Linked DNA regions of Homo sapiens: regions 1, 2, 3, 5, 6 and 7 are each reported to be linked to region 4. Evidence: microRNA targets listed by miRTarBase, many of them from high-throughput screens and not tested one by one. Region 4 holds a microRNA gene; each other region holds the end of a gene's coding sequence.
What was found. The annotated mature microRNA hsa-miR-1305 reads UUUUCAACUCUAAUGGGAGAGA and lies in region 4 at 2,004-2,025, opposite strand. An mRNA with a match to its seed (bases 2 to 7 or 8) in the 3' UTR can be bound and repressed. Matches are read on the target gene's strand: a 7mer-m8 pairs with bases 2 to 8, a 7mer-A1 pairs with bases 2 to 7 and ends in A, and an 8mer does both.

Region 1: miRTarBase lists ZFX as a target of hsa-miR-1305. Seed matches in the 3' UTR shown: 7mer-A1 at 1,858-1,864.
Region 2: miRTarBase lists FRAT2 as a target of hsa-miR-1305. Seed matches in the 3' UTR shown: 7mer-A1 at 714-720.
Region 3: miRTarBase lists TRDN as a target of hsa-miR-1305. Seed matches in the 3' UTR shown: 7mer-A1 at 766-772.
Region 5: miRTarBase lists TNRC6C as a target of hsa-miR-1305. Seed matches in the 3' UTR shown: 7mer-m8 at 1,641-1,647.
Region 6: the mRNA of RBFOX1 is a reported target of hsa-miR-1305. Seed matches in the 3' UTR shown: 7mer-A1 at 856-862 and 7mer-A1 at 805-811.
Region 7: miRTarBase lists HMGCS1 as a target of hsa-miR-1305. Seed matches in the 3' UTR shown: 7mer-A1 at 1,979-1,985, 7mer-A1 at 925-931 and 7mer-A1 at 583-589.

Annotation. Positions count from the first base shown.
Region 1 is chrX:24,210,837-24,213,920 of GRCh38, reverse strand. ZFX (zinc finger protein X-linked) reads right to left here. Exons shown (of 10, transcript NM_003410.4): 10 at 1-3,084. The coding sequence ends at 2,545. Among named protein-coding and RNA genes, the nearest start is that of ZFX, 63 kb to the right of the region's middle.
Region 2 is chr10:97,331,106-97,334,189 of GRCh38, reverse strand. It overlaps FRAT2 (FRAT regulator of Wnt signaling pathway 2), which reads left to right. Exons shown (of 1, transcript NM_012083.3): 1 at 1-1,693. The coding sequence ends at 319. Among named protein-coding and RNA genes, the nearest start is that of FRAT2, 2.1 kb to the left of the region's middle. RefSeq lists silencers at 103-232, 243-292 and an enhancer at 1-750.
Region 3 is chr6:123,215,976-123,219,059 of GRCh38, forward strand. It overlaps TRDN (triadin), which reads right to left. Exons shown (of 41, transcript NM_006073.4): 41 at 364-2,765. The coding sequence ends at 2,626. Among named protein-coding and RNA genes, the nearest start is that of CLVS2, 220 kb to the left of the region's middle.
Region 4 is chr4:182,168,284-182,171,367 of GRCh38, reverse strand. MIR1305 (microRNA 1305) reads right to left here and starts at 2,075; the gene lies at 1,990-2,075. It also overlaps a transcript of TENM3 not described here.
Region 5 is chr17:78,104,187-78,107,269 of GRCh38, reverse strand. TNRC6C (trinucleotide repeat containing adaptor 6C) reads right to left here. Exons shown (of 23, transcript NM_001142640.2): 23 at 1-2,785. The coding sequence ends at 2,425. Among named protein-coding and RNA genes, the nearest start is that of TMC6, 23 kb to the left of the region's middle.
Region 6 is chr16:7,710,272-7,713,355 of GRCh38, reverse strand. RBFOX1 (RNA binding fox-1 homolog 1) reads right to left here. Exons shown (of 16, transcript NM_018723.4): 16 at 16-2,733. The coding sequence ends at 2,611. Among named protein-coding and RNA genes, the nearest start is that of LINC02152, 580 kb to the left of the region's middle.
Region 7 is chr5:43,288,626-43,291,697 of GRCh38, forward strand. HMGCS1 (3-hydroxy-3-methylglutaryl-CoA synthase 1) reads right to left here. Exons shown (of 11, transcript NM_001098272.3): 11 at 1-2,595. The coding sequence ends at 2,506. Among named protein-coding and RNA genes, the nearest start is that of HMGCS1, 23 kb to the right of the region's middle.

The DNA.
Region 1 (3,084 bases), not on the chromosome of region 4:
ATTTAAAAAAATATAGTTAAATGACCCAATCATTTATATTTTCTGTATTAATTTTATAGGATTTAAAATTAATACATTTCCACTTTCATTTAAGTGTTTTTACATTATTTCTGGGAAAATAAAAATTAAGGGAGATTTTAAAGGTTCTCACAAAAAAACAGACAGAGCTTTCAAGAATCGCAGGGCAATGAATCACGGATCACAAAATTGTAAGTTAGTTTAAAAAAAAAAAAAAAAAAAAAACACATTATGGGGGCCAAGAAGGTACAGGAATTTCCTATAAGATAGGCTAGGAAAACCCATGCCTTGACTTTGACTGGCATTTGGGCTGGAGTTCACACCTGCCTAAAGCACTTGGTTTAAAACTAGACTAAATCAGTCTAGCACTTCAGAGGTTTGCCAAACACCAAATATTTTGATTTCTAACCCTAAAAATATAACTCTTGAATACAAACATCAATGGCAAAGAGAAAGATGAAAGGTAAAAACCTAAGCACACAGGGGATGGAGCACCATAATGAGGTGACAAGGCAGCTATCGGGTGGGAAGACAATTTCTAAATCTCCTACAATGTGCTAGATGCATACGGACCAATAGCCAACTGAAGGGACCCCAAAAACTGTTTTCTGTTCTCCCAGATTCGTCTTAACATAACCAAGTTCTAATTAACCGAGTTTGTTTTATGAATGTATGACACTGATTCAGACCTATGTGGTGTCTGGGCACGGTGGCTCACGCCTGTAAACCCAGCACTATGGAAGGCCGAGGCAGGTGGATCACGAGGTCAGGGTTCAAGACCAGCCTGGCCAAGATGGTGAAACCCCATCTCTATTAAAAATACAAAAAATTAGCCGGGCGTGGTGGTGGGCGCCTGTAATCCCAGCTACTCGAGAGGCTGAGGCAGATAATTGCTTGAACCCAGGAAGCAGAGGTTGCAGTGAGCTGCAGAGGTTGCAGTGATCACACCACTGCAGTCCAGCCTGGGCAACAGAGCAAGACTCCGTCTTAAGAAAAAAAAACAACAAAAAAAAACAAACAAACAAAAAACCTGTGGAAGACTTAGTGATGTTCCAAATAAGGCCTCAGACTTTCCTTATCCACTTAAAACACATCTTTACCTTTTAATCAAAGCCAACTTGAGTGTTAAGTTTTTAAAGTTTGCTAACTGTAACTGAGAAATAACAGATCAGCCTGAACTTGCCGAGTGTGAAGTCATAATTAGCACCCGTTCTCTGGTCCACAGAGCCATCACTTCTTTTCCATCCCCCTCACTAGGTAAGACAGAGTTCCCTCTCAGGCTTCTCAAAGAGAACTGTGGGAGTCATGTCTGGATACTCATTTGCTTTTCAGAAAAACATAAAGACATGGAGGTGAAATTGTATGAAAACATTCTACCTAGAAACATCTTAACCTCTATGTTTCAATTACCAAAGATATTTAAAAGAAAATATCTTTACTCTTTAAAAATACTAGTGTCCTTATTTTCCTTCTAATTCTTCACCTGAGTAGTCTCTCTGAAGAGCATGACTTACAAAATGCTCTCTCATGCATCCCTGGATCTTTCATGTTATTGTAAATTTAATACTTTTCATTATAGATTTTAAACAACTACTACTTGGGGTTGTGTGTATAAATATGTAAAATAAGCAATACACACAGGTACATGATATATATGTGTATATATATAATTCAGGGTACATTTACATACATAAAGTTGCAAAAGATCCTATAAGCCATGAGTTACCTCTAGGAGATTCCAAAATGCAGTCCTCAGTAAGTGTCATTTGTAGCACACAACCATTCCAAGATGAAGCCGCACAGACAGAATAATCAAAATACAACATGAGCAAGCACAGTTTTTCAATAAGGTTTTCTAAAAGTTTGCTACGCTGACAAAAGATGTAAATAATCCAAAGAAAGCCAAAAGAAGTATATTTGAAAAGTAAACACGAACCCAGCCACTGCTCTTTACTCAGCAAAGCCAGGGACGCAACAGCTCAAATGGAAACTTTCACTGTCAAGTGGTCTGAAAATATTAAGCAAGACAAGTAAATGACTTCCATGTTATGATAATTAGACCTGACTGTAAAATCTCCCATTTATATTAGTAGATGTCTCTGACAATTTTATTGTGAGAAATGTATGGGGAAAAAAATGAGTCAACATGAATACTTTCAGAGTTACCAATATAAAGTTACCTTAAGTTAATGGTCTTAGAAGAGTACCATCAAGGTAAGCAAGGTAAATATTTAAATAAATATAAAATTCTAAGATATAAAACTTCGGTATAGAATCAGGGATTACTTTATTAAAAGTAACTAGCATGTTGCCAGTTTTCCCTATTTATTAAACAAACTGAATAGAATTCAGAACACACTACTGAGCAAAATGTATATTTAAAAAAAAGTCAACTAGAAGTAATAATTCTATTTGTACACAGCATAAATCAATATACAGTATTGTATGTGAATGAGACTGATTGGCTTTAAAATGAATTTTCTGCTTCAAGGCCAATATCTCTACAAACGTTCTGTAGAAGTATTGTTAGGGCAGGCCAACTTCTTTATGATGTCGCATTATGTGCTGGTTCTTTTCTGAAGGTCTTCGGAAGCCTTTCTTGCAGTACTCACACCGGTGAGGATAGTCTTTCGTGTGAATGGAAATAACGTGCCGTTTAAAGCCTGAGGCATCTGTAGTGCTATACTCACAGTACTCACACTGATACACTTTCCTGCCACTGTGTGTCTTCATATGCTTTTTAAGCTCACTCTGTTGCCTAAATCCCTTTCTACATCTCTTGCACCTAAATGGAAGATCCTTTGTGTGAACTGAGAGAATATGGCGACTTAGAACAAATGGATCTGCAATCTTAAAGTCACAATGTCTACACTGGTGCATTTTTTTGCCCTTGTGGGCAGCCACGTGTTTCTTGAGTTCTGAAGGCCTGTGAAAGCCTTTATCACACATGTCACACTTATGGGGGTAGTCTTTCGTGTGAACTGAAATTATGTGTCGTTTCAAATCACTTGAGTTCGAACTCTTGTGGTCGCAATGCAAACACTGGTGTGTTTTGCTTTCTTGGTG
Region 2 (3,084 bases), not on the chromosome of region 4:
CTGCGTGGCGGAGGTCGCCGCAGGCCCCAGCGCGCTGCCGGGGCCGTGCCGGCGAGGATGGCTCAGGGACGCGGTCACCTCCCGCCGCTTGCAGCAGCGCCGATGGACCCAAGCCGGGGCACGCGCCGGCGACGACGACCCGCATCGGCTCCTCCAGCAGCTCGTGCTCTCGGGAAACCTCATCAAGGAAGCCGTGCGGAGACTCCAACGAGCCGTCGCCGCGGTTGCAGCCACGGGCCCCGCAAGCGCCCCTGGGCCCGGGGGAGGCCGCAGCGGACCTGACCGCATTGCCCTGCAGCCCTCAGGCTCCTTGCTCTGACGCAGGCCTCCTGGAGGAGGAAGTGGAGGCCGCTGCGTAGACCCAACAGCGTCCAGTTCCTACTAACTCTGAGCTGAAGCCGACGTCGCCAGCCTGGGAGCGACCACTTTGGCTGCGGGGAGGCGCGTGGGGAGAGATCTCAACCAGAGAAGTTACCAGCCGCGGCGAGGCCGTCGGAGAAAACTTAAGCGTGGAGAAATGTATGCGCCAGGGTGCTTCCGTGGGGCATGAGAATTTCCCGGGCCATCCAAGCCCAAGGACCTGGGATAAACTGGGAGAACTATGGCAGCTACTTGCATCGACTTGTACCTCACTTAGCCCTTGGGGGCGTCGTGAGCTTGGATTGTTTAAGGAGGGCTCAGGGGTAGGAATCGCGATGGCTTTATAACAATACTTGAAAACTAACGACACGCATACATTTTCTTATTTTCTGGTGGAGGAGCTTAGTAAGTGGTGCTACAATTGCTGTGCAAAGAAATTCCAGAGGGGAGAAGAATGTAAAAGTTTGGTGGTGGGTGGCTTGGCATTGCCCCTTTTTCCCACCGATTCGGTGGCTGGTGAAGGTGGGAGATGTGAACTCCAATTAAGGGACTGGAGAGAGGTGAAGAATTTTGCAGGTGGGAGATTTGGATTTGAATGTGGACTTGTAAATGACTTGACCTTGCCATCTGTGTTCAAGGTCACGGTTTGCTGTGGGGTTCCTGGGAGAGCTTACTCACCCCGGAGTCTTTTCTTTCTCTTGCTCCAAGAAGAGCCCTGTTGGTGCTTTACCACCGCTTGGAGTCTCCCGAGGACACAAACAGGCAGAGAGGGACGTGTAGGGAGAGTTCTTTCCTGTTTTCTGTGCTTTCCTTTTTACAGGACTCCCGGAAGGCCACTCATGGCCATGCCAGGAGCTTTCTCAGAAACAGTCATAAACGATCTCTTGAGTCTCTTTCTTGTCCTCCCAGCTGAGCTTTCTTATTCCACCCTTTCTGGTGTCTATAGGAATGCATGAGAGACCCTGGACGTTTTTCTGCTCTCTTCTGGCCCTCCATGGAGTCATGGGCCTCGGCCTCGGCGGCTCCTCACCCTCACAATTTATTTCCTCCTCCCGTGCCAGCCCTTCTTTTGTGTCTGAAACCGGTTTTAAAATGTGACTCTCCCAGAGAAGAAGCCGCTGGCTGTATGAAACTTGACGGCGCTTTTGTAAGGTGCCACCCCCAAACTTTAAGGTAGCTAAACCAATTTTTAAAAGATTCAATGGCTTGTTCATCCTCCAGATGTAGCTATTGATGTACACTTCGCAACGGAGTGTCTGAAATTGTGGTGGTCCTGATTTATAGGATTTCATAATTAAAATGTCTGCTGAATAAATTTGGCTTTTGTTTTGGAGCACGGTTTGGCATTTTGGTGGAAGGTGGGAGAGGGGCAGAAAAGCATATGGGGATGTCCTTAATAAAGAGGGCACTTGGGCTAAACCGGGGGGGGGGGACCTGGACAAATGGTTTGGGCCAATGCTGATGGGCACAGAATCCTAGTAGAGCCACAGGACTTGAGTGCTTCTAAGTTTTTATTCCACAAGATCAGAAAATTGAGTCCAGGTTTTTAGAAGCTGCAAGATGGGCTTCCACTCCCTTTGTGGAAAGACAATGTATTCTAGAAATGCTTTCTGGGCTGGAGAGCAAAGAGGTGCTGTGGTGGAGGGAGGTGGGTTTTCATCTGGACGTTTTTGTGCAAAATGGGGAGGGCACAGGCGAAGCCAGCCTGCTTTCCCCTTTGAGACTGACCTAGTCTTGAGCTATGGCCTTGGGAGAGAAAAACAGGGTTTTACAGCAGTGTATTTGGTAGTTGTAAAATGGCTTGGTTTGAGCACTCAGGGGTTAGATTTGACCGAAGTAGCCCTCCTCCTCTCCTCATTCTCTCTCTGCCCTGTCTTCCCAGGCATAGAGCCCTTGCTGAATCCCTTCCTAGTTCCTGCCTTGCCCTTTTCTCTTTTTAATTTAATTTTATTATTTTGAGATGGTGTCTTACTCTGTAACCCAGGTTGGAGTGCAGTGGCACGATCTTGGCTCACTGCAGCCTCAACCTCCTGGGCTCAAACAGTCCTCTCACCTCAACCTCCTGAGTAGCTGGGACTACAGGCTCATACCACCATGCCAGGCTAATTTTTTATATTTTTAGTAGAGATGGGTTCTCACTGTGTTGCCCAGGCTGGTCTTGAACTCGAGCTCAAGTGATCTGCCCTCCTCGGCCTCCCAAGGTGCTGGGATTAAAGGCGTGAGCCACCACACCTGGCCCCTGCCTTGCCCCTTCCTTGCCCAGCTCTACTAACCCAGCCCCCGGGGAACCTCTCCTGCTCAGCACACTCCCGAGGCTGGGGCTGCAGAGGAAGGCTGATGCTCAGTTGCCTCAGCCCTTTCTGCTCACCAGCTGTGTCATGGTGGGCAAGTCAAGACTCTGAGTTTTTCCCTTGTGATTTGTAAAACAATAGTACTTAATAGGGGAGTTGGAAGGGTTAAATGAGGACTTGAAGGGGAGACTTCATTGCTCAAAAAGTGATAGCTGCTCATTCTTGGTACTACCACATGGCTTTATGTGCCACGAGGTAGGCACTATTTTTCCATCTTATAGATAAGGACTACAGACAATGGGAAAAGACCTACAAGATCTGAGTGTTTCTCTACTTCCTAGGTAGAGATGGAGCTGATCCCTGTTAGGGCAGGCACCCTGGTTGGCACCTTTTACAAGATTTTTTTTTTTTTGAGATGGAATCTCGCTCTGTC
Region 3 (3,084 bases), not on the chromosome of region 4:
CCAGAATGAGTCAACATACAGGTGCTTTTGCTAGGGTTCATTAAAAAAAAAAAAGAAACAAAAAAACACTTGCCCCATTTGAATAATGATTTATCAGGCTTTAGGAAAACTAAATATAAATCAAAAACCTAAGGAAAAATCGATTCTTATTTTCAGATCTTTATCTATTAAGAGGGGATGAAGGGTGGGTAAACGCAGGGATGTAATGGGAGTAGTGTGTACCAATTGTGCAAAATAACTAAAACAATTATGAAATGCTTACATATTCCTGGCCAGTATAACTTGAATTATGAATGAACCATTAAAGACAAAGATTCTTAATCAACCATTTATCTTTTCCTTTTAAAATGTAAGGCATCAAACTTGGAAGATCTATAACTATTTTATTAGACGGTAATATATAAACAAATGACAGTTCAGATAATATTTTTAAAGTGCTATGATCATTGTAACTTTAATCAGATAAAACGTAATTATTATTAACATTTTTACATTATAGCTGATTTGTCTAAATTCTAATTACAATAAAATATATCGTTTTATCTTATCAAATAGTTTTTATATTGAGAGTGAAAGAAACAGTAAAATAGTCAGAGGAAAAACTAGTGCCATACCCAAAAGTATTACTTCAGAAATTTACTTTAATATCATATTTATATTAAAATATTTTATTTGTCTCCATGGTATTTCTATGAGATATTAGACTGTTTGTCCCTATATCCCTATTTTACTCATGGAGAAACAAACATAGTATGTTTAGTAAATTTTTCAAGGTCATTCACTATGTCAGAATAGCGCTGGGAATCTAATTTATTATATTTTTCTTGTACAATACAGCACCTAACACAGCGCCCTAAAAGAGTAGGTATTCAATAAACAGTCATTGAATGAAAGAATTAATGGACAAACCATTCTGTTCTATGAAATCTAAAACATCTATCATATTTGCTATTTCTTTACTCAGTAAATTCAGCAGGCTGGAGGAGCAGTTGAGCAATAAACTTTATGCACTCTCCTACCCACAAGTTTAGATTGTCACCTGAAGGGGCTTTGCAAGATGGTATTGTCTGGTCATTCCTGAAATTATACACTTCCAGGATGTCCCACATACCCCATAAAGAGAGTCATTAATCTGGTTCATGTGACACTGGCTTTCGTGGTGTGAATGTGGTCCACCAGCTTTTGGCAGAGACCAACTTCTTTCACAAAAGTCTCCAAAAATGCATTATTAGTAATGAATGTATTACTGATACCTAGCCTAATGATTTTTAGTGACTGTTTTATATCTTGGTCCTAAAGAACCGTAGTTAGTGGCAATCCTTGAAAATAAATCACTTGGCTAGTATTGGCTCTGGCTATCTCAGGCCTTGCTGATGGTAATTACAATGCTAGAAAGGATAACTCAATTTATTTCCTGAGTTAATTTGTCATAAGTTCAGTTGCAATTGTAAACATGATAAAGGTCACAGAGGCATGACTTTTAGAGTTGATAAAAACAATGTAGTAAAGAACACGAGTATTTATATTACCAGGAATATGACAAAAACATAACAGTCATTCCCAGGGATGCACTGTCGAGTAGATTAAAAATTGTTATCCATGTCATTGGCACTGATGACCAGTTACCTAAAATACAAGTAAGACATCTCACGAAGGCATTTAAGGCTAAAATGAATTCCTTAAACTTTGATGGCATTCATATTTTGCCATTATGAGAAAGAAAAACATTTTACTTCACAGAAAGAATGTATTAAAGTGAAATGAAAATATTTTTATATTTGTCACCCAAATTTAGTGATTGATCTAAAATTTCACCCAGGTGACATTTTTATTAAGACACAGTCTGGAGAAATTTCAGAATTCCACATCTCATTTGCTAATATTTTAAACAAACGATTCACCAGACCTGACTAATTGAATGGTGTATTTCCACTGGACTGAATGTCCTAATTATCATTCAAGACATATCTTAAAGATTTATCAAGCATTTACTCTCCACCTTACCATGTCTAAAGCTCAGAGATATTTTGAGCTCTAAAAGAGTATCACAAGAAATTTATAGCAGTCTGTAGTACAACTATTACCCATTCTTAGAGCAAAGCCACAACTAAAATAGAAATAGACAAAAATAAAATAAAATCATTAAGCATCAACTTATTGGGTAAATTAAGTTTAGATACCCATATGATGCAAAAGGGTCACTTTTATATAAGCTTCCCCATCTTTTAAACTTAGAGCACAGTCTATGTTGTCATTAAAAAAATAATAGCTAACTGAAGCCAGGAATTCATTTTGCAATTGTGTCAATTATTTTAAAGATACCATTATTAAGTAAACTTTAAATTAGTTTGTGTACAACCTTATAGTGACTGGAAATAAGATAAATACAAGCACCCCCTCCCACCGCAGCAAACACACATAACAGATTCTTGAGACTTAGACCCTTAAACATGTCTGCTCATCACTCAATCCATTTGGCCACCCTTTCCGTCCACACCAGGCCAAAGAGCAAAATGTTTTCACAGAAATTCTCTGGGTTGCATATTCTTAATTGCCTGAACTACTGTGGACAAAACATCACATTTTTAAAATCTTAAAGCACTTGTAAGGGTCATACATGTGTGTTTACTGTCCTTGTTGCTTCTGTCCTGGAGAATTTGCTTGACCAGAGCTCTCTCCAGGGCGGTCTGCAGGAGTGAAAGGAAACTGAAATCCATAGCCATTGTACCCATCCAAGTAGACACACTGGAAGAAACTGATGGGACCTAAGGAACAGAGCATGACAGTTTGTTAAAACATGCAGAACATGAGCAAAAAAGCACAGTGAGGCAGTGCAGTGCAGCAGATAAGGTCACAGATTCTGCCAGCAGCCTCCGTAGCTGTTGGCAAGTTACTAAACTTCACTGTGTCTTGGAGTCTTTATGTATAACATCAAAACAACGAAAACCGCACAGAAATATTATGACAGTTAAATGAGTTACATGAGTTACATGTGCTCTTAAAATTCTTCCTGGTATGTAATAAGCCTTTAATAAGTGATAATAAAAATGGCCTGGCAGAGAAAGTCAAAGTTCTGATCATATA
Region 4 (3,084 bases):
AGGGAAAGGGATTGAAAGGAGAAGTAGGAAAATGCCAAAAGTATAATATGACTAGCTCCCTGATTTAATCTTGGGCTCATAGACTAATTAAATATAACAGTATCTAGTAACTCAGGGAGACATTATGCTTTTTAATTTATTAAACATACTAATTTAAAAGCTCATGTACATTTACTTACGTGGTATTAATATATTTTTGTGTTACTGCCTTGTTAGCTGAAAGCTACTTTTTATTCTGTTGGAAGCAGGCAATACTTCCTGTAAAAATTTTATGGGTCAGAACTCAGTGAATTAAAGGTATTTTTCAAATTTATTAATAAAATTTCTTTGATTTTTAAAGCATGTATTGACCCTGATGATCACTCTACAATAGCTGTTATGGGAATAACATTTAATTTTGCCATGCAAAACTACCGATGATGTATTTTAAATAGTAAGAAGCATCAAAAGTCGCATTAGATAGTTTTAATTGAAAAGAAAAAAAACTCACTTAAAAATATTTTATGTACCAGCTCAACATAACACATGTACATCATCACTGAAATTTTACTTTGCCACTTAACATTTTCTGTGATTTATCTAATGAAATTAGCTAATGTGATTTTATTATTGCAATTTCTGCTATAAATCTTACAGGAGCTTTGTGGTTTTTTTTCTTTTTACTTGGAAAAAGATCAAAATGCTTGCAGACTTCAGATTGCTATTAGATGTAATAATTATACACTAAACTAATTACCATTAACCAAAACCTGACTTACAACTAATTAAATTTTATTACATCATCATAGAGTGTAGGCTTTCAATTTAACACAGGGCACAACTATAAACACAAGAGTCTATCAGCGTGTATATTTATTTCAAGTAAAAGGCGTAGATCAGATTTATAAAGTTTGAATTTGGCAGGGTTTGTAAACCAATTTGTCAATTTCACAAATCTGCTAATTTGCCAACTTCTAAGGAGAAAGAAAGGTGCTACTTGCAAAGCAAATACACTGGATTACACCATAATAGTTTAGACAATAGCTAAATGCATATTATACAAATATAACTACGTTATAGAAGAAAGTATGAAATGCAATGAAAAAATCATTTATTTTCAGTTCAGAGGTACATTCTATTTGTGACATCACTTATCTGACATTACCGACATACAAATTGCCAAGCCCTAGTTTCTTCTGTGCAAAACAAGTAACAACATGTATGCTATCTTAAAGGAATGAAAGACATATGAAACACAGAATCCTTAGCTGACATGAAAGTGCCAATTTGTTTACTGTTCAAGGAACCAATGAAGATCAAATGGCAAAATCAGTTGCGATCTAGTATGCATCTCAAAACAGTGGCAGAATCTCCATTCATTCTTCAATGAAAGTACACTTAAATTTGTCATTCACAACAATCGGAAACTATAAGCGATTCACTTTATAAACTTTAATTTTATAAAAAATGTTTACTTTCTACCAGATGGTAAGATTAAATTACAAAAACACTGTCAGCAAGTTGAATCCTCAGATGTATTCATTCCCACCACAGAAGCTTCAAAACCTGTCTATAATTTTGTTACTGATGTTTAGAAACAGCTGTAGCTGACATAGCTACATGTTATATATGTCAGCTTTAAAGGATTAAATATTCTTAACCCCCACAGGAGAGGTCTTTTGCTGTTAACAAACGCCAATGTAAATTACACCGGAAGTTATTACTGTAGTAGAGATATCTCACACTACATTATTTGGTAAACAAAATGGTCAAGAGTCACACGTTTCTCATTATTACTGGAAATTCTGTTTGACTTGGGCAAAAGAAAGATTTTAAATTCACAGCACTTTCTGATAATAAATATAAGATAAATTCTCCTCTAAAAAGCTCCTCACATATATCTTCATTCATATTTTAGGTGGTAGTAAATTATATATTTTTCTCTTCAGAAGAATTCAATCCATCTCAGGAGACTTCTTTTCCTCGTGCAGATTTTTACTTGAATTTTTGGGAGAATCCTGCTGTCTCTCCCATTAGAGTTGAAAAGTATCTTTACAATAAACATTCAAAACTAATGGTAGAAACAGCAGGATCTTCTGAAATGCTATACCCCAAATTTTGTACTCAGTTAAGCTATCTAAAGGAACAGAACCAACCTGACTCGCCAGACTGCAGGCTTCAAAAATCACTTGGTTTATGAATTAATCTCATTAATTTTCAAGAACCACAGATTAATAGTGGTCAAATGTACAGATCTTAGAAGATGGCATTCATTCACACCCACGTGTGTGTGTGTGTGTGTGTGTGTGTGTGTATGGCATGATTATATGACATATATCTGTCCATATACGTTTTCCCTCATATAGCTGTCACTTTTAAACATCAGTCACTTTGGACCATGTGAATGATTTTTTTAAGCCTGTAAGTATACATATAAACAAATATTCTAAAAAATTGGGCAAATACAATTAATTGTATACAGTGTGTTATTTTTTCAGAACATATACATGAATTTTTTTCAGAAGATATAAATGAAAAATGGCCAACATAAATGAAGAGATAAAATGGGCTAACTGTTGAGCAGCACTAAGAGATATCCACTTAGAGAAGAAAATTCAACACAAATTTCCAAAATTAATGCAATTATCCATACCTATAATTCATGTTCATTTAAAGTTACATCTTAAACTTTTATATACAGTATAATAATTTTATGCAAATGACTATGGTGGGGATAAGTCTCAATACTATATTAACAACAGAGACTTTTAGAGATGCTGAAAGAAACCTGTAAGGTGAAGTTTTTCATTTCTTTTAACAGAAGCTAATAGAAGTATCAGCAGCGGTTTCATAGAGATCCAGGAGCTTAACACAAAGCCTGGGTGAAAAAGAAATAAGTCAATAATTGGAGAAAACGAAGGCTAGTTTCCCAGAGAGAAGAAAATACATATGTGGGCTGGGCACGGTGGCTCATGCCTGTAATCCCAACACTTTTGGAGGCCAAGGCAAGAGGATTGCTTGAGCCCAGGTGTTTGAGATCAGCCTGGGCAACATAGTGAGACCCAGTCCCTATAAAAAATAGAAAAATTATCCAGGCGTGGTAGC
Region 5 (3,083 bases), not on the chromosome of region 4:
AACAAACAAAAAACCCCTCAAACCCAACAAAACCCAAAAACAAACAAACATATTCTTGACTTCCATCCCCAATTTTAAAACAACAGTTTTTCTACAACTCAATGCTCGCCGGCAGCACGGGAAGTGGTATGTCGGACGCACATACGCACACGCATGCTCACACGCACACATATTGGATATACATACGCAGGTGTATGTCCATCGAATATATAGAACGCATGTAATGGCAATGAGATGCAGTCACTCTGAGGAAGGTTGGTTTTTCTAAATATCCTACTAAACTTGAGAAAAAAAGTCTTGAACCCAGTTTGTGCATAGTTCATGATCCTCTATAAAACCAGCTTTTGTGGATCTGCAGTCTTGCAGGACTTTTTTTTTTTTTTTTGTATTTTTTTTGTTTTGATAAAACCATTAAAAAGCTAATTAAAAAAATGTAATGCACAAGTTTCCTGATCAAGCAGGCAGGGAGCACAATGTTCATATATATATTTTTTAAAACATACTTGAAGGTATGTTATTCCATTGTCTTTCTTCCTTGCAAAACAATCAAAACATTGATCATTTTTAAAACATAAAGCAATTTTTAATATATAAAGCACTCTTCAAACATCTATTTCTTTTGAGTCCATTATTTGGTAAATATGTAACTGCTACACATTAGAGATTAGGTATTTTTCTTCTTTGTGTTTTTTTTTCCTCTTTTTCTTTTTTTTCATTTTTTTGTTTTGTTTTGTTTTTTTTTTTTTTAAATAACATCTTCAGTGCTAGGAGTTGGGTTTAAAAATACATGAAATGGTGTGGAGCTGCCCTCGGGAGCCCTGGCTTTCCTGAGAGCGCGTCCGGCATGTGCAAGACAGTGGCCACAACGCCTGTCACCTTGACGAAGGGGCGAAAGCAATCGACAGAGTCCACGACGATGGCCGAGGGAACAACACTGTCCCGTCCCAGAGCTCTGAAGGAACGCATCTGCATTCTGAAAATAGGTTTCTTTACGACGGAAGTCTTTTTTTTTTTTTAATTCCTTTTTAAATTTTTAAAATTTTAAAGTCTGAAGGAGAAAAAAAGGTCTGTAAACAGGTGGGAGCCCAAACCCCAGGCTCCCCCAAAAGCAGTCACAACCCACGCCCAAGTGCTTGTTTCTGTTCCTTCCACGGAACCATCCATTCTTTACAAGTATCTATGGCCACAGTTCAACAACAGTTTTTTTTTTTTTTCTCTTTAACTTTATATTCCAAATGGAAAAATGGTGCAATACTCTGGTAATAATTTTCTTGCATTAGTCCACAATAAAAAGCTGCTAAAGGTAGGTATACATGTTATTTCTCCAGAGATATACACTGTACTTTTTAAACGCAGTCACAGAGTCCTTGAGTAAACATTTACACATGAATTGTCGCCAGCCCTGTCCTAGGAATTCTCTGTAATGTATAGGATTAGCTAAAGGAAGGGCGAGGACACTCAGTGCAAAGTTAGAAGCTAATAATAACAACCGTTTGACCAATGCGCCAAAAAAAAAGCGTATACTGAATACAAGGGAAAACCCACAGTTAAATCCTCACACGCTTTCAAACACACAAACACAGAAAACTGCACGCCGTGCAGGAGCACGCGCCACACATGCACACACACACACACTTCTGTTTCAACACGCACACATACACACACGTAGGCTATGAACTTAGAAATTTTTCCTAGAGCCTGTTTCTGTGTACTGATGTCAACCTGGAAGTGTAGAATTAGAAAGTGTTCACATTTCACTATTGGCCTGCTGGATTCAAGTATTTGCATGTTTGATATGTCTTTTTTTAACTTTTAAAAAATATTTTTTGGGATAAAAAAATGACATGAAAAAGTAATGAAACAAGGGTAATGTGCATAGGCGGATCCAGGGGAACAGAGAGCAGATCGCAGCCCGCGCCTTCCGCTCAGCTCCCGCCGCGGAGCCGCTCTGCGCCCGGCGGTCCACACCAGACTCTGCCCTGATTACCGGCCGCCTCTGGTCATGTGCATAATCGTCACAGGCTCATTTTAAATAGGCTTCACGTCTCCCTCCCTCCCCCACAGATAAAATAACCCTTTCCAGCCCACAATCTGAAAAGTGCCCTTCATGATAGAACTATTCTAAGCAGCTTTTATACTTAAAAAAAAAAAAAAAATCAAAATGACAACACACTATACAAACATAAGACGCACAAAATAAAAAGCTACGAGGAACATCCTGTCATTAGCATGTGACGCTGACCCACCGCAGCCCGCACTGTTTTGCGAACAGTTCGCAAGGACTGCGGCCAAGGTTCGTCTTCAGTCCTGGACAGAGGTACTCAAAAGGGCGGCCGCTGCTGGGTTCCAGCGGGTCTGTGGGGCCGCCCAGCCGGGAGGGGTCCCGGGAGGGGTCGGCTCTCCTGGTGCTGATGATGGCAGAGCCTACAGGGACTCCCCGCTGAGCAGGTCCCCAGGCAGCAGGGTGGTTAGCGGCGTGGGGCTGCCTATCACCCTGCTGTCGTCGGCGCTGGGCGGGCCCCACAGGCTGCTGGAGTACTGGGGCACCCCGCCCCACAGCAGCTCACTGCTCCCCTTGCCACCCAGGCACGGGGCGTTCCAGTGGCCAGCGTCGCTGCGTACCAGGCCATGGGAGCTGCCCGCTGCGCTGAGCCGCGGCTGGCTGGACGCGCTGCTGGACTGCCAGCTGGAAGTGGGTGGCAGCGCCTGGCCTTGGGCTAAGAAGCGATTCACTTCTTCTTCACCAGCGAACTCGGCCAGGATGGTAGTGTTTCCCAGGACGCACCTGCAACAGCAAGATGGGGCACGTGAACAGGGCCACCCCAAGTCCTGCTGAGTTCGTGGCACTGGCTTTCTCTGTATTGGGAACGGCCCCACATGGAAGCCATCCTGTGGCTTCTGTTTTGCCACTGCTATTTCCAAACCCAGACTGTGAATGTTTTGCTCAGTTCAGACTTCTAGTGGCAACATCGTACTGGTACACAGAGTACATCTTCAAGTGCGTGAACAGATCATTAAATGTGGGCTCGTTTAGGGTCAGTGTCATTTGCATCCTGGGCTAAAAACAGGAATGACTAATTTCT
Region 6 (3,084 bases), not on the chromosome of region 4:
CAGAACACCAACTTGTACCTTTTCAGACTAAGCTTTTATTTTTTTGATATTACAAACCAGTTTTCTTTATTCACAAACCACTGTAAGTGATATAAACACTAATTTCTAAAGACAGATATACACATTTTCTGGGTTTGCAGATTGCGTGATGTGTGTGTTAAGAAGTCACTATATGCCACACATAATATTAATTTTCCATAATTCATAATAGCAATAGTTATTTAGATAAATGAAAACATTCCAAATAAATACTGTTTAAAAAAAATCCAAAATGTTTGTTTACATCTCTGACATACATTTTAAAATGACTTATTGGCATCTTGGAGTGCCTAGACAAAAGATTCTGCAACATCGGTTGGCACTCACTCACTCTAAATGATTTTATTAAAACTACATACAGTCATGGGGGAAAGTACAGCTCATTGATGAAAATCAAAACTGCAAATGAATTTTACTTTAACCAACACAGTAAGAATTCTATGTTTGTGATTCGAAACACAATACAAATTCTGGATTTTGAAATCTGAGGCGGCAATTGGGAGAAATTTATTCTCCATAGCCCCCTGCTCCTACTCTTTCTTCCCTCTGGAGGATGTCATAGTGTTTTAATAATTCGTTTCCTTTAAGAACATCAACCAGGCACCCATTGCCATAACACTGTTTTCCAGGTGGGGGAATGAGAATGTCTTAGTGATGCTATAAAACACCCTCTTGCCCCTCCCCTCACCCACCCAAAGAAGTCTGGTGAAAAGAACACTTTATATGCTTTTGGCTGATAAGTAGCTCCCCCCTCCCCCTTTTCTCTTTTCAAGATCACTATCGTCTGTCTTAGGTATCGAAGCTACAGAAACTTTGTTTTCAAATCTTGTGAAACTTTATTGATGGTTTAATATCCAACTGATCTTACGGCATGCACATAGGATGGCAAGAGAAAGCTGGATCACACATTTTTTTTTAAAGTTTTGTTTGGTTTTGTTTTAAAGCAGAGTTGTTACAGCGGATTGGCAGGTTCACAGCGGTGAGAGTTGATAACTTACTGAAGTGCGGGCCACAGGGCCTGCACTGTACACATGAGGACTTAACCTATGGCAGCAAAACTACTCAGGGACAGCCTGCTGCTGTTGTTTTTATTTAAATACAAAACAGGAAGACCCGTGACGGATACCCCAACTTAAGTTAACTTGTAAACAGGACAACGTGGAAAGTTCAAACAGAAGTACAGACAAACTGCAATTTTTCGGCTGTGTCACTCTGGCCCTGCATCCGAGAAAGGTGGGGAGACTTTGTTCTTTTGGGATTAAGAGGGTGGATGTACTTTTTTCTTTTTTTGCATCCTTCTGACAAGTGTCCTGGGCCTTGGAGACAGAACTAAAGAGATCATTTTGAGATAATCCTTGGGGGTATGGGAAAGAGGTGGAAGGGCAGGATCTCACGGACTGAAAAATTGCAGATTGTTCACACAACGCAGTCACGTTTCAAAAAGTACCAAGCTGATGAAAATACCATGATTATCTCTACTCAATGATTGCAATACTTGTAAAATGCTTCTATAAATCCGAATATGATTATCATGTAATTCCATAAAAATTATACGTCTGTCTCTAACAGTTGTTCTACTAGGCTAAAACTAAAGCTTCATAGACTGTTTCTAGAACTTAACAACTCCACTGCACAGATGTAAATTTTATACATTTTTTTTAACTGGTACAAAGAATTTAAGTTTTTATTACTTTCTTTTTTTGGAAAAAAAGAAAAAAATAGAAACAGTGCTTTTTTATCACCTTTTTATTAATGTTATTTTTTCCCTCCCATAATATAAAAGTCAGCAGTGATATCAATAATTTATTATACTGGAAGAAATATAAAAAGAATGCTTGTTGATGGCCTAACTAGTGGGTTTTTTTTCCTAAATAGCGACTGGTTAAGAAGCTGAATACTGCCGGGTGGAATGGTTTAAAGGGTGGGTTTGCACAGCTTCATTCAACTCAGATGCACAAGTGCTACTAGAAGCACCCCCTTAACAACATGACCTTTGGCTTGAACTGGCAATGAGTAACTTAGAACCATTGATAAATGATTGTTGGTGCAGTGGGTCGTTTAGATTCATCAGTTACATTTTTTTTTTTTTCTTTCAGCCAAACCCCAGTTCCAATCCCCTAAGCCCCTCCCAACCTCCCCTTTCGCAAAATAAAATAATGCAGGTGCAGAAAAAAATGACTACTGTAGTCACTTACACTCTTCCCAAATAGCTGATAACCCCAGTAGCTTAATATTCAGCATATATAATTCATTTACATAATATAGCACTCTGGATATGGCCCTAAACCAGTTTTTATTCATTATCTAGCATCTGTCTAGATCAACCACAAAAACTCCTACAGCCAGCAACCAAACTACGGAACCTTCAGAAATTAAAGACCCACAATATTAAAATACACAGAACAAAATATCTGAGGTATAAGATAAAAAATGTAATTTTTTTTCCTTTTTATTTGTATTTTTTTTTTTTTTAGAGTTGCTAAAATGATGTACTACTGCATGTATTGCAATACTCAGGCCTCGGAAAGCTTCCTTTCTCCCCACATTGGAAGGTTTTTATGGTTTTGTCATTTAGTATGGAGCAAAACGGTTGTATCCCCCTCGGTATATACTAGCCTGCAATGAAGAAAGAACGAGACCCACATCATCAGCATGGCTCCTAGTCTTGGCATCAGTCAAAGGTGCAAAAGCATTCTGAAACAAAGCAATTTGAGGGGTGTGTTTTTTACATTTTCCTTTTGCAACATGTGGATCATCAAAAAGACTAATGTGAAAAATAGACACTCAAAACCAACCGAAATGGAGGCACCCCCTACCCATCCCAGGTCATTCTTGGAGAACTAAAGATAGGGCCATTCCTGACCTTCCCCAATAGCTCCTCCTAAAGAAATTCCCTGCAAAACCAAATTCTGTCAGCCAGTCCTCTTAGCTAAAAGGACTCTATTATAAGCTGGACAATGGAAGGATTTTCACTGTCTCATTTTTTTATAACAGAATAATCTGCACTTGAGGTTGAATTTGGACCAGTTGTTGAATGTAATTCAA
Region 7 (3,072 bases), not on the chromosome of region 4:
TCCATAAAGGAGAGGGGGAAAGATTGAATTCTTAAAGCCATACTAAATAATATCCTACAATGTGCAAGCAGAAGTGACCTTAGAGAACGCTAGCCTCTAAATGACCCAGAAAGTAAATTATGACTAAGTATGAAAGCCAGACATGACATGATGATAAAATATGAGCTGATCAGTATTAGAAAATATATAATTTGGTTTATTTCCTAATTCATAGAATCCTAAGACTTGATGGTGCTCTTAGGGATCATCTAATCCAAAATTACTGCCAATGCAGGGATTCCTTCTATAAAACCCCTGGGGATCACTAGCAACATGGGACTTTTAGGTTGGAGACTCTAGCTGGTAGTGGGCAGTTCTACGTTCACCACTAAATTTGCTCTTATTTGATTGCCAGCCCTTAGTCTTAGCTTTTTTAAGGAAAACAGTAACTCATTTCATAAATATTTATAGCAAAGTCTATATATGCTTGCCACGCAATTTGAGAGTTAATTTCTTTGTTTCAAGTGTAGGAATAATTATCAGTGTAAATTCCTCCATTCTAGATGAACAGCTCCTTAAAGACAAGACCATATATCTTGTACATTTTCAAATTTCTGCCTTAAACAGAGCACCTTGCTTATATTAGGATTTCAAATGTTTGTGAAATGATAAATGAATGGAATGAGTGAACGAACTGAAATGAAATTAATGCCCATATTTAAAAATAGAATATTAGCTGATTTCTTGCCGAAGTTGTTAGTTCAAGAGTGAAAAAGAATACTCAAGTATCTGAAACATTTCTCTAAAACTTTATTTCAAAGTTATTCACCTCACCGTTAATAAGGTGTATGATTAATGCTCTGTGCCAGTATTTGCAGGCCTGCCCATTGCCGGCAATGGACTTTGAGAAAACCCATTTCCTGGCACCCAAAAGTTAAATTACTCTTTTCAAAACATACCGATCTCCCCAACACTTGCAAAAGTATTACATGCACCATTTTGCCACCATTCTTTAAATCAGAACTTACATTATTAATCTACATCAGTGAATGTTAAATGAAGTCATTTTAACAAATTATGACTGTACAAATCAAAATACTACTAGTTAATATTAGACAAGAGTATCTTACAAACACTACTATTACATATTACCTTGCAATCTGAAACATTATATTTCATATTTGTGTATATTTATTTTAGATAACTGAAACTTCACAGAATTTAACAGCAAATAAAGTTTAAAAAATTTAGTTCTGTACATTAGTTCCAACTATCCCTATTTTACAATCTATAAGGCTCATGTCATAGTTCAGCACCAAAAAGATCTACACAAAACTGTTTAACCAATCTTCTTATCTATCCTGTGTGATAGTTTTGTTTGTTGTTGTTTTTTAAGGTAAAAGTCCTACTTCAGACCTTGAAGTGGAATACTTCTAGTCAGACTAGGTAAAAACTTGGGTCATACCTTATTTTCATTGAACAGATACCAAAAAAAAAAAAAAAAGGAAAAGGAAAAGAGCTGTGTTACACCATGAATTTAGGTTGTCAGCCTCTATGTTGAATTTATAACACTGAAGCATCAGAAATAGCCTAATAATGCCCTGCCCCTATTCTTCCCTTCCATTTTAAATTTTTAAAAAAGTAACCAGAAAAATGTTTCATTTATTCTTTAAAATAAGGTGCAAAGAAGGACTGCAACAACAAACTCCCTCATCCACACCTCCAATAACATCTCACTGTTGTTCAGCATAATCTACCATGAACTGATTCAGGAGCACACCTAGAGCTATATTCACAGCTCCTGAATGTACCATGTTTTCTATACCAGAAGCCTCTTCAATGGCAGTGTTTCTCTGTTCAGAGGTCATTACAATAACTTTTGTCACTGCTGGCCTGGACTTAACATTCCAGATTCCAGAGCCAGTGTTTTATTGTCCCAGCTCTTTTCTTCCTCTTTAGGATTTATCAATTTTAGAAAAAGGGCATGTTTGTTTTGCTATTTTCAAAGGGTTTGTGCGTATCACATTTTACCACATTTTACCCCAATTTTACCACACTGGGGAATGTTGTCACATTCCCCAAGCTAGAAATGTTTTCCAAAAACCACAGGTACTTTCTGTAATCTTGTTGTTCAAAGTACAAAATTCTTACATGTTAAAAAATTTTTTAATTGGAGATTAGTACCTCTGCTTTCTTCTGACAGAAGTACACAATTCATTATACCATGTTTAAAAACCAAACATCATGCATACAAATGGCCAAAGAGGTATGAAGTTTTACAGAGCCCTTAACATCATTCGAGTACATTTGGCATTGGCCAGACCACAACAGGAAGCATGTCAGCAAATAGAGCAAAGAGACTTTCCCAAGTACACGATAGTCATCCAGGCTCCATGTCAGTCACATAAAAATTTACATAACATGTAATCCTTTAAAATTATCCCCAGATATCCCATTCCTCCAACTGTTCCCATACCCCCACCCCATGCCCACCCCACCCTGAAGTCTTGCACCTCACAGAGTATCTTAATGTTCCCCATTACTAATGACAGCTGCTTCAGGTTCTGCTGCTGTGGCAGGGAGTCTTGGTACTTTCTTGGCAGGGCTTGGAATATGCTAAAATGAAAGGAAAAAAGTTGATGGCTCTTATGATTCTTTCCCCCACAAGAATCATGGCACCAATTAAAGTTTCTGTAAAGAAACTTAATAAAGGACAACTCTGGAGAAGTTTATGCTAAATATATATTTTATATAACTTTTCATGAAGGGAACTCAATATCCATTTTTCACCTTATGGTGAATTTAGTATACAATTATCCATATGGGGGGGAGAGGAAGCCTGCCACAGAGACCCACCACGTAACAGTATTTTACTTGTTACGTCTTGTATTTGCAACTCAAACAGTGGCGGTTTGACTTGCTACCTAATTTGTATAATAGCAAAAAGCAAGACTATCCATTTACCAAACTTGTAGTAAGCAGATAAATAAGTAGTTTCAAGGTTATAAAGTCCTTAGTTTATAACCTGGCTTTAATACTTACTACCTATAATCCTGGGCAAGTAATGTAACTTCTTGGAGGCTCATCTCTAAA